Regions from separate parts of the Homo sapiens genome. Here region 1 is linked to region 2. A link means that fine-mapping ties the variant in region 2 to the expression of a gene that starts in the linked region. Tissue or cell type: whole blood. Region 2 holds a variant in brackets; the other region holds the start of a gene. All regions are shown on one strand. Distances are between the middles of the regions.

The links. PIP is the estimated chance that this variant, and not a neighbour inherited with it, causes the effect.
Region 1: it holds the start of ZNRF1, and the variant in region 2 is the best candidate, but not a certain one, in a credible set for the expression of ZNRF1 in whole blood (INTERVAL, PIP 0.52).

Annotation. Positions count from the first base shown.
Region 1 is chr16:74,997,475-75,001,669 of GRCh38, reverse strand. It overlaps ZNRF1 (zinc and ring finger 1), which reads right to left and starts at 2,646. Exons shown (of 5, transcript NM_032268.5): 1 at 1,575-2,646. The coding sequence starts at 1,998. RefSeq lists an enhancer at 775-834 and silencers at 1,625-1,934, 2,335-2,854.
Region 2 is chr16:75,132,156-75,136,280 of GRCh38, reverse strand. It overlaps a transcript of ZFP1 not described here. Among named protein-coding and RNA genes, the nearest start is that of ZFP1, 14 kb to the left of the region's middle. The variant G/A (reference allele first, on the strand shown) is at 2,254.

The DNA of each region.
Region 1 (4,195 bases), 130 kb after region 2:
CTTTTAAGTTCAAAACCAGATGCTCATTACAGTTCTTTTAAACACCAAACTAGTCATCTCAAAAATATGGCTAACTCTCTGGACTAAATTCCATAGGAAAAATTATTAATTTCAAAATGCCTAATTTTGATCAAATGCCTGAAAGAGCCAAAGGCAATCATGTCCTGCTTCTCACTCAGGGCAGAGTTCCATGAGGTCAGAAAAGCTCCAATGATATCCGGAGGTCTGTCAGAGATTAAAATATCATCCTAACAATTCACAAGCTACTTCTAAGTGTTACCCTAAATTAGTCACTAATCGTTTCTCCCCCAACACTATTTCACAAATTAAAGTTTACAGAATTGACAAAAAACCAAACCAAATGAAAACAAACCCCAGGCTATTTGCAGGGGGGGGGAAAGAGATACCCCAAAAGTCAACCCTATTTCACAGTAGTTAAAAGAGTGATCCAACAGATATTACCCTCCATAAAGTACCCTAAAGGCAGGAGCAATCTTTCCCCTACACTATCTAAATTTTCCCAACTCACCCAAAAGAATCTTAAGATGTAACTTCATCACTCAACTTGCCAATTAGCAAATAGCGGCCCCCACATCCCTTTTGGCCAATTTTCTAGATGCCTGACCTAGCAGACAGACCTGTTTTCCTCCTGCCAGGCCTTTTTTGCCCTCCCGCTAGGAGCCTGGGAAATCCCCCTCCAACCTTTTGCTGGCCTGTCACCAGAAGTTCATAAAATGAATTCATCCAGATTCTCTGAATCCTCCTTTTCCCCAGTCATGTGCCAACAGCCAGGCAATAATGCCCCACCGTGACAGGCTCCCTGTTACAAAAAGATGCAGATTCACGGGAAGACCAAGCACTTAGCATGGAGCAGAAGAAAAAAAGATGGAGGGAGGCGAGAGTCGCGGAGCCAAGCCTGCTGCATGCAGTACGGGTGACCACAGCCCGGGTCCTGCAAAGCCCCCGCGAGACTCGCCGGCTGGGCCCTCCGTACAGCAGCCACACCTGTCTATGCCAGCCGCCTGCCGGCTGCTCCATTTTAAACATTTCAAACAGATCTCCAGCAGGGTGGCAAAACTGGGCACCTCTCTCTCCCAGCAAGAGTGAGAGCCCTAATCCAGGCATCACTTGCCCCTGATTTTATTTCATTTTCACACACTCTGTTTAGGAGACACTGCTTGCTCCAACTGGCTCCATCTCTCCGTTACCGGTGAGGCAGGCACAGTGCTGCAGTGGCAGAATGGAAGTACCCAGGCTGACTTGCTCTCAGCCAGACACGACCTCTTCTCTGAGGAGGGTGATGCCAATAAATGGAACTCCAATAGGTAGGCTTCGCTCTGCCCTTCCACAAGTGAACACACGCCGTGAGTCCCTAAATCGCCAGGCTCCGCAGCCTCGCAGAAAGCCTAGTTTCCAGACGGTAGGTATCCCATTTATCCCTTGGCATCGGGAACCAAAGGGAATGCAGACAGATCCCGGTCGTGCACTACATTCCCAAACCTTGGCACGCACGCGAAGGCTTGGGGCGCCCCGGCGCGCCCTCCCTCCGAGGCCTCCACCACCCGCGGACTCACCACTATGCGAGCTGAACCACCTGGGTGCGATGTGCAGAGGTAGAGCATCCGCCAGCGAGGCTCGGGAGCCCAGGTACAGCATCCCGTCTCTATGGTGACCGCCGCCCGTCTCCTGGTAACCATTGCCATGGGCATAGGTGGAGTCGGACGCAGACCCTCCGCCGCCGGGCGCCCTCTCGGAGTCGCCGGTGCCCCGGGAGGCGGGGGTGTAGAGGCCAAAGGGCACCCCCCCGGCCGTGCTGGGGTCCATGCCCATGCCTGCCACCGAGCTGACCGAGCGGCTGCGCAGCCCCATGGCCCCGCCGCCCGTCCGGTAGTGCCCGAAATGGGGCGCCCCTCCCGGCGGCGGCACGGCGCTGTCATCGGTGGAGACCCCCGGGAAGGGGCCCCGGGAGCGGGCCGCCGTGCTCTGCTTGCCCCCCATGCTCGCCCGGGCCCCGGTGGGGCGGGAACCTGGAGGCCGAGACCCTCCCCCACTTCTCAGCAGCAGGGGGAGGGCTGGGCGAGCATAAAGGGGGAGGGAGTCAAAAAGGAGACCCGGAGGGAGAAAAGGAAAAAAAGCAAAAGGAAAAAAGGAAAAAACCCGCGGGGCGGAAGAGGCAGGCGGGCGGGCGGGGATCCCAAACTCAGAATTTCAAACGATCCAAGGCAAACGCATGTTTCCCCTCAAGGTCCAAAGAGGCGCAGTCCGGCGCGGGCTCCGCGCGCCACAGGCCGCCCCCGGGCTCCGAAAGCCGGGGGAGCCGCAGGGAAGGAGGGAGGGAGGCGGCGGCGAGCGGCGGGCGGGCGCGGGGAGGCGCCGGAGGAGGCCGCCCGCCCCGCGGGAGGAGGCGGAGGAGGGCCGGGGGCGCCGGGCGCGTCCCCCGCCTCAGGACGCCGCGACCATGGACGGCGGCCCGGACCCCTCCAGGCCTCGGGCGGGCCGCGGCGCTGGGCGGCCAGGCGCAGCTCGGGAAGCCGCGGTCGCGTCGCGTCGCGCTCTCGCTTCAGCCGCCGCCGGCCCCGCCAGCCGCGCCGCCCCGCTCGGTCCCGGGCTGCGCTCGCCGGCGCTCCTCGCCGCCGTGGAGACAATGGAGGGCGGCAGAGCGCAGGCGCGGCCCGCGCCCCCTCCCCCTCCCCCCGCCGGGTTAACCCTTTCGCGGTCCCTGCGGCGCCTGGGCCGCTGACGCCCCAGCAGTCCCCACCCACCGCCCGCCCCCGGCCGGCCTGTGACCTGGGCGGCCTGACCACTGGGCGTTAGCCACAGAAACCAGATGTCTTTCAAAAGCAAACACTTCTTAAGTCCCCGAAAGTGGCAAATTATTCAGGGGGAACCAAGTATGGGGGAGGGGCAGCAATGGTTCGAGGGGGTGGGAAGGAAACACCGGGAAGAAGGAGATTTACTCCTTACGCCTACCTGGCTCTGAGGGTCACCGGTCGAGCTCCCCTCCTGGCACAAATTTGCCCCCACAGCACCCTCTGGTGGACGTGATGTCCATTCTTTCGGGGGTTCCCCATCCAAGCACCCCTCACGTCCGGAATCTCAACATTTGGCGGGGTTTAGTTATTTGGGGGTAAACAGCGCCATGGGGACACTTGTGAATCCGGCGTTTTGCTGACACTAGATCATAACTTCCTATTTTGGGCTTAAGCAAATGAGTAGATTCCTTAGCTAAAATGTAATTTTCAGAATCAATAGATGTACCATAAAAAGTGAATAGATATGGGTATGGAAATAGAACAACGCAGCTAGAAGTGATTATAGAAACCTTCTGTCCAAGGCTGGAGCCCTGTTTTGTTTACCATGTGCTGTGTTTCGGCCCTCACCACGGGCCAAGGACACGGTGGGTACTCAATAGGTGTATTGTTGACCAAGCCTGAATCATTTGCAAGGGAGTGTTCCTTTGCTACCTCAAGCCGTCTTTCTCCTATATTCACATTCATTTATTGAACAACTGTTTTTTTTGTTTTGTTTTGTTTTTGTTTTTGAGACGTAATCTCGCCCTGTCACCCAGGCTGGAGTGGTGTGGCGTAACCTCGGCTCACCGCAACCTCCGCCTCCCGGATTCAAGTGATTCTCCTGCCTCAGCCTCCCGAGTAGCTGGGATTACAGGCACATGCCACACTGCACCTGGCTAATTTTTTGTATTTTTAGTAGAGGCGGGGTTTCACCGTATTGGCCAGGCTGGTCTTGAACTCCTGACCTCAGGTAATCCACCTGCCTTGGCCTCCCAAAGTGTTAGGATTACAGGCATGAGCCACCGCGCCCGCCCTGTTTTTCTTTTTCTTTTTTTTCTTTTCTTTTTTTTTTTTTTTGAGACGGAGCCTTGCTCCTCCCAGGCTGGACAACCTCCGCCTTCCAGGTTCAAGTGATTCTTCTGCCTCAGCCTCCCGAGTAAAAGTCTGTTAAAAATTTCAAAATCAGGCCGGGCACGGTGGCTCATGCTTGTAATTCCAGCACTGTGGGAGGCTGGGGGTGGGGGGGTGGGGGGAGATGGGGCAGGGGATCACCTGAGGTTAGGAGTTTGCAACCAGCCTGACCAACATGGTGAAACCTCATTTCTACTAAAAAAAAATGAAAATAAAAAATAAATAAATTAGCCAGGTGTGGTAGCTCACGCCTGTGATCCCAGCTACTTGGG
Region 2 (4,125 bases):
TCCATTCAGTTCCAAAGTTACTTATGTCAGCGCCTTTTTCCCCAACCCTCTTCAGTGGGGCTGTTTTATACATTTAGAAAGAAAAAGTTAGATTCTCTTGCCACCATCTGCATTTTTTCCTGGGACTCCCCCGACTTCCTAAATGATCTTTTAAAAATTTGCCTTAGCTGGGCGTGGTGGCTCATGCCTATAATCCCAGCACTTTGGGAGACAGAGGTGGGTGGATAACTTGAGGTCAGAAGTTCGAGACTAGCCTGGCCAACATGACGAAAACCCATCTCTACTAAAAATATAAAAATTAGCCAGGCATGGCGGCGGGTGCCTGTAATCCCAGTTACTCGGGAGGCTGAGGCAGGAGAATCGCCTGAAACCCAAGAGGTGGAGGTTGCAGTGAGCCAAGATTGGGCCACTGTACTCCAGCCTGGGTGACAAAGTGAGACTCCGTCTCAAAAAATAAATAACCAAATTAATTAATGAATAATAAAGATAAAAACTTGTCTGTATTGTTTCACTCAGTGTGGTAAAGTTCTATAGGTTTTGACAAATGCACAATGTCATGTATGTACCATTATAGTACCATACAGAAGGGTTTCACCACCCTCAACATCCTTTGTTCTTCATTATTTATCCCTCCCACCTTGAACACCTGGCAATCACTAAATTTATTCCCTCCCAGACAGGGTCTCACTCTGTTGCCCAGACTCGAGGACAGCTTTGAACTCCTGGGCTTACCAATCCTCTCACCTTGTCCTCCCAAAGTGTTGGAATTGATTACAGGCTGGAGCCACTGTTACCAGCTAATCACTAATCTTTTTACTGTCCCTATGGTTTTATCTTTTCCAGAATGTCATGTGGATGGAATAATACAGTATATAGTCTTTTGAGACTGACTTCTATCACTTAGCAATATGCATTTAAGGTTCCTCTGTGTTATTTTGTGTTAAGGTTCTTCTTTGTCTTTTTGTGACTTGATAGCTCATTTTTAGAATTGCTGATTAACGTTCCACTGTATGAATGAGTGAAGGATCTCTTGGCTGTTTCCAGTGGTTTTTTTTTTTTTTTTTTTTTTTTGAGATAAGGTCTCACTCTGTCACCCAGGCTGGAGTGCAGTGTTGTGATCATGGCTCATTGCACGCTGTAACTCCTGGGTTCAAGCAATCCTTCTACGTCAGCCTTCTAAGCAGCTGGGATTACAGGCACCAGCTAGTTTTTTTTGTTTTTTTTTTGAGATGGAGTTTCACTGTTGTTGCCCAGGCTGAAGTGCAATGGCACGATCTCAGCTTATCGCAAACACCGCCTCCTGGGTTCAAGCGACTCTCCTGCCTCAGCCTCCCGAGTAGCTGGGATTACAGGCATGCGCCACCACACCTGGCTTTTGTATTTTTAGTAGAGATGGGGTTTCTCCATGTTGGTCAGGCTGGTCTTGAACTCCAGACCTCAGGTGATCCGCCCGCCTCGGCCTCCCCAAGTGCTGGGATTACAGGCATGAACCACCACGCCCAGACAGGCCTGGCTAATTTTTTTTTTTTTGAGGCGGAGACTTGCTGTGTTGCCCAGGCTGGAGTGCAGTGGTGCGATCTTGGCTCACTGCAAGCTCTGCCTCCCGGTTCACGCCATTCTCCTGCCTCAGCCTCCTGAGTAGCTGGGACTACAGGTGCCCGCCACCACGCCTGGCTAATTTTTTGTATTTTTAGTAGAGACGGGGTTTCACCATGTTAGCCAGGTCTCGATCTCCTGACCTTGTGATCCACCCGCCTCGGCCTCCCAAAGTGCCGGGATTACAGGTGTGAGCCACCGCGCCCAGCCCAGGCCTGGCTAATTTTTAAAAATGTTTTTTGGGGATGGGATCTGGCTATTGATGCCCAGGCTGGTCACAAACTCCTGGGCTCAAGTTCATTATCTTTAATGACCAACTTAATATTACAAAGAAGCCAAATTTCACAAAATTAATAAACTAATTATTGAATTCAATCTCAATCAAAATTCCAATTAGAATTAAAAAAATTTTTTTGAGATAAAATTCACCTAACATAACATTCAGAATTTTTACCATTTTAAAGTGTGTAAGTCAGTAGTTCTTAGAATATTCATAATATTGCACAACCATCACCGCTATCTAATTCCAGAATATTCTCATCATCTTGAAAGAAATCCTATACCTTTCAATTCCCTGTCCCCCAATCCAGGTGGAATTTTTAAGGCCTAAAACTTATTGTTATTATTATTATTTCTGAGACAGGGTCTTGCTCTATC[G/A]CCCAGGCTGGAGTGCAGTGGCACGATCTTGGCTCACTGCAACCTCCACCTCCTGGGTTCAAGAGATTCTCCTGCCTCAGCCTCCCAAGTAGCTGGGGCTACAGGCATGCACCAGCACGCCTGGCTAATTTTTGTATTTTTATTACAGACGGGGTTTCACCATGTTGGCCAGGCTGCTCTCGAATGCCTGGCCTCAAGTGATCCACCCGCCTCAGCCTCCCAAAGTGCTGGGATTACAGGCGTGAGTTACCATGCCTGGCAGAAGATCTAAAACTTATTCTAAAATGTACATGGACACACAACATCATCTGTGAAGTAGTCTTGCCAAAGAAAGCGGAATCTGAATCCAATCAAGCCTCTGAATATGTGCTGTCCAATATAATAGCCACTCAAAATTAAAATGAATTAAAATAAAATTATGCAGCCATGAAAAAGATCATGTCTTTTGTGGGAACATGGATGGAGATGGAGGCCATCATCCTTAGGAAACTAACACAGGAACAGAAAACACAGGTTCTCACTTATAAGTGGGAGCTAAATGATAAGAATTTATAAACACAGAGAAGGAAACAACAGATGCTGGGGTCTATCTGACGGTGGAGGGTGGGAGGAGAGGAGCAGAAAAGGTAACTATTGAATACTGGGCGTAATTCCTGGGTGATGAAATAATCTATACAGCAAACCCCCATGACATGAGTTTACCTATGTAACAAATCTGCGCATGTACCCCCGAATCTAAAATAAAAGTTAAAGGCCAGGCACGGTGGCTCACACTGTAATCCCAGCACTTTGGGAGGCCAAAGCGGGCAGATCACCGGAGGTCAGGAGTTCGAGACCAGCCTGGCCAACATGGCGAAACCCTGTCTCTACTAAAAATACAAAATTAGCTGGGCGTGGTGGCATGCACCTGTAATCCCAGCTACTTGGGAGGCTGAAGCAGGAGACTCGCTTGAACCCAGCAGGTAGAGGTTGTGGTGAGCCAAGATCGCACCACTGCACTCCAGCCTGGGTGACAGGGCAAGACTCCGTCTTGAAAAAAAAAAAGTTAAAAAATCTTAAAATGAAATGAGGCTGGGCGTGGTGGCTCATGCCTGTAATCAAGCACTTTGGGAGGTTGAGGTGGATGGATCACCTGAGGTCAGGAGTTTGAGACCAGCCTGGCCAACATGGTGAAACTTCATCTCTACTAAAAAAAAAAAAAATACTAGCCATGTGTGGTGGTGAATGCCTGTAATCCCAGCTACACAGGAGGCTGAGGCAAGAGAACCACTTGAACTCAGGAGGCAGAGGTTGCAGCGAGCCGAGATTGGGCCACTGCACTCCAGCCTGGGCAACAGAGTGAGACTCTGTCTCGGAAAAAAAAAAAAAAAAAAAAGAAATGAAATGAAATAGACAATTGAGTTACCTTAGCCACATTTTGAATGCTCCATAGCAATGCATGACCACTGGCTACAAAGTGGGAAGCGCAGATCTAGCATGGTTCCATCAGAGCAGAAAGTTGTACTGGCCAGCATCTCACCTAGATATAATAGTTCATAAGAAATACAGAGATTAGAGAAATATATTCAATACCACAAGGATGCAATCACCCAAATACAGAATATGGAAATTTCTACAGAACAAATGACCCTGCTTCATTTTTTTTTTTTTTGAGACAGGGTCTCACTCTGTTGCTCAGTGGCATGATCTTGTCTCACTGCAAACTCTGCTTCCCAGACTCAAGTGATCCTCCCACTTCAGCCTCCCAAGTAGCTGTGACTACAGGCATATGCCGCCATGCCTGGCTAATTTTTTATATCTTTGGTAGAGATGGGGTTTCGCTATGTTGCCCAGGCTGGTCTCAAACTTCTGACCTCAAGTGATCTCCCCGCC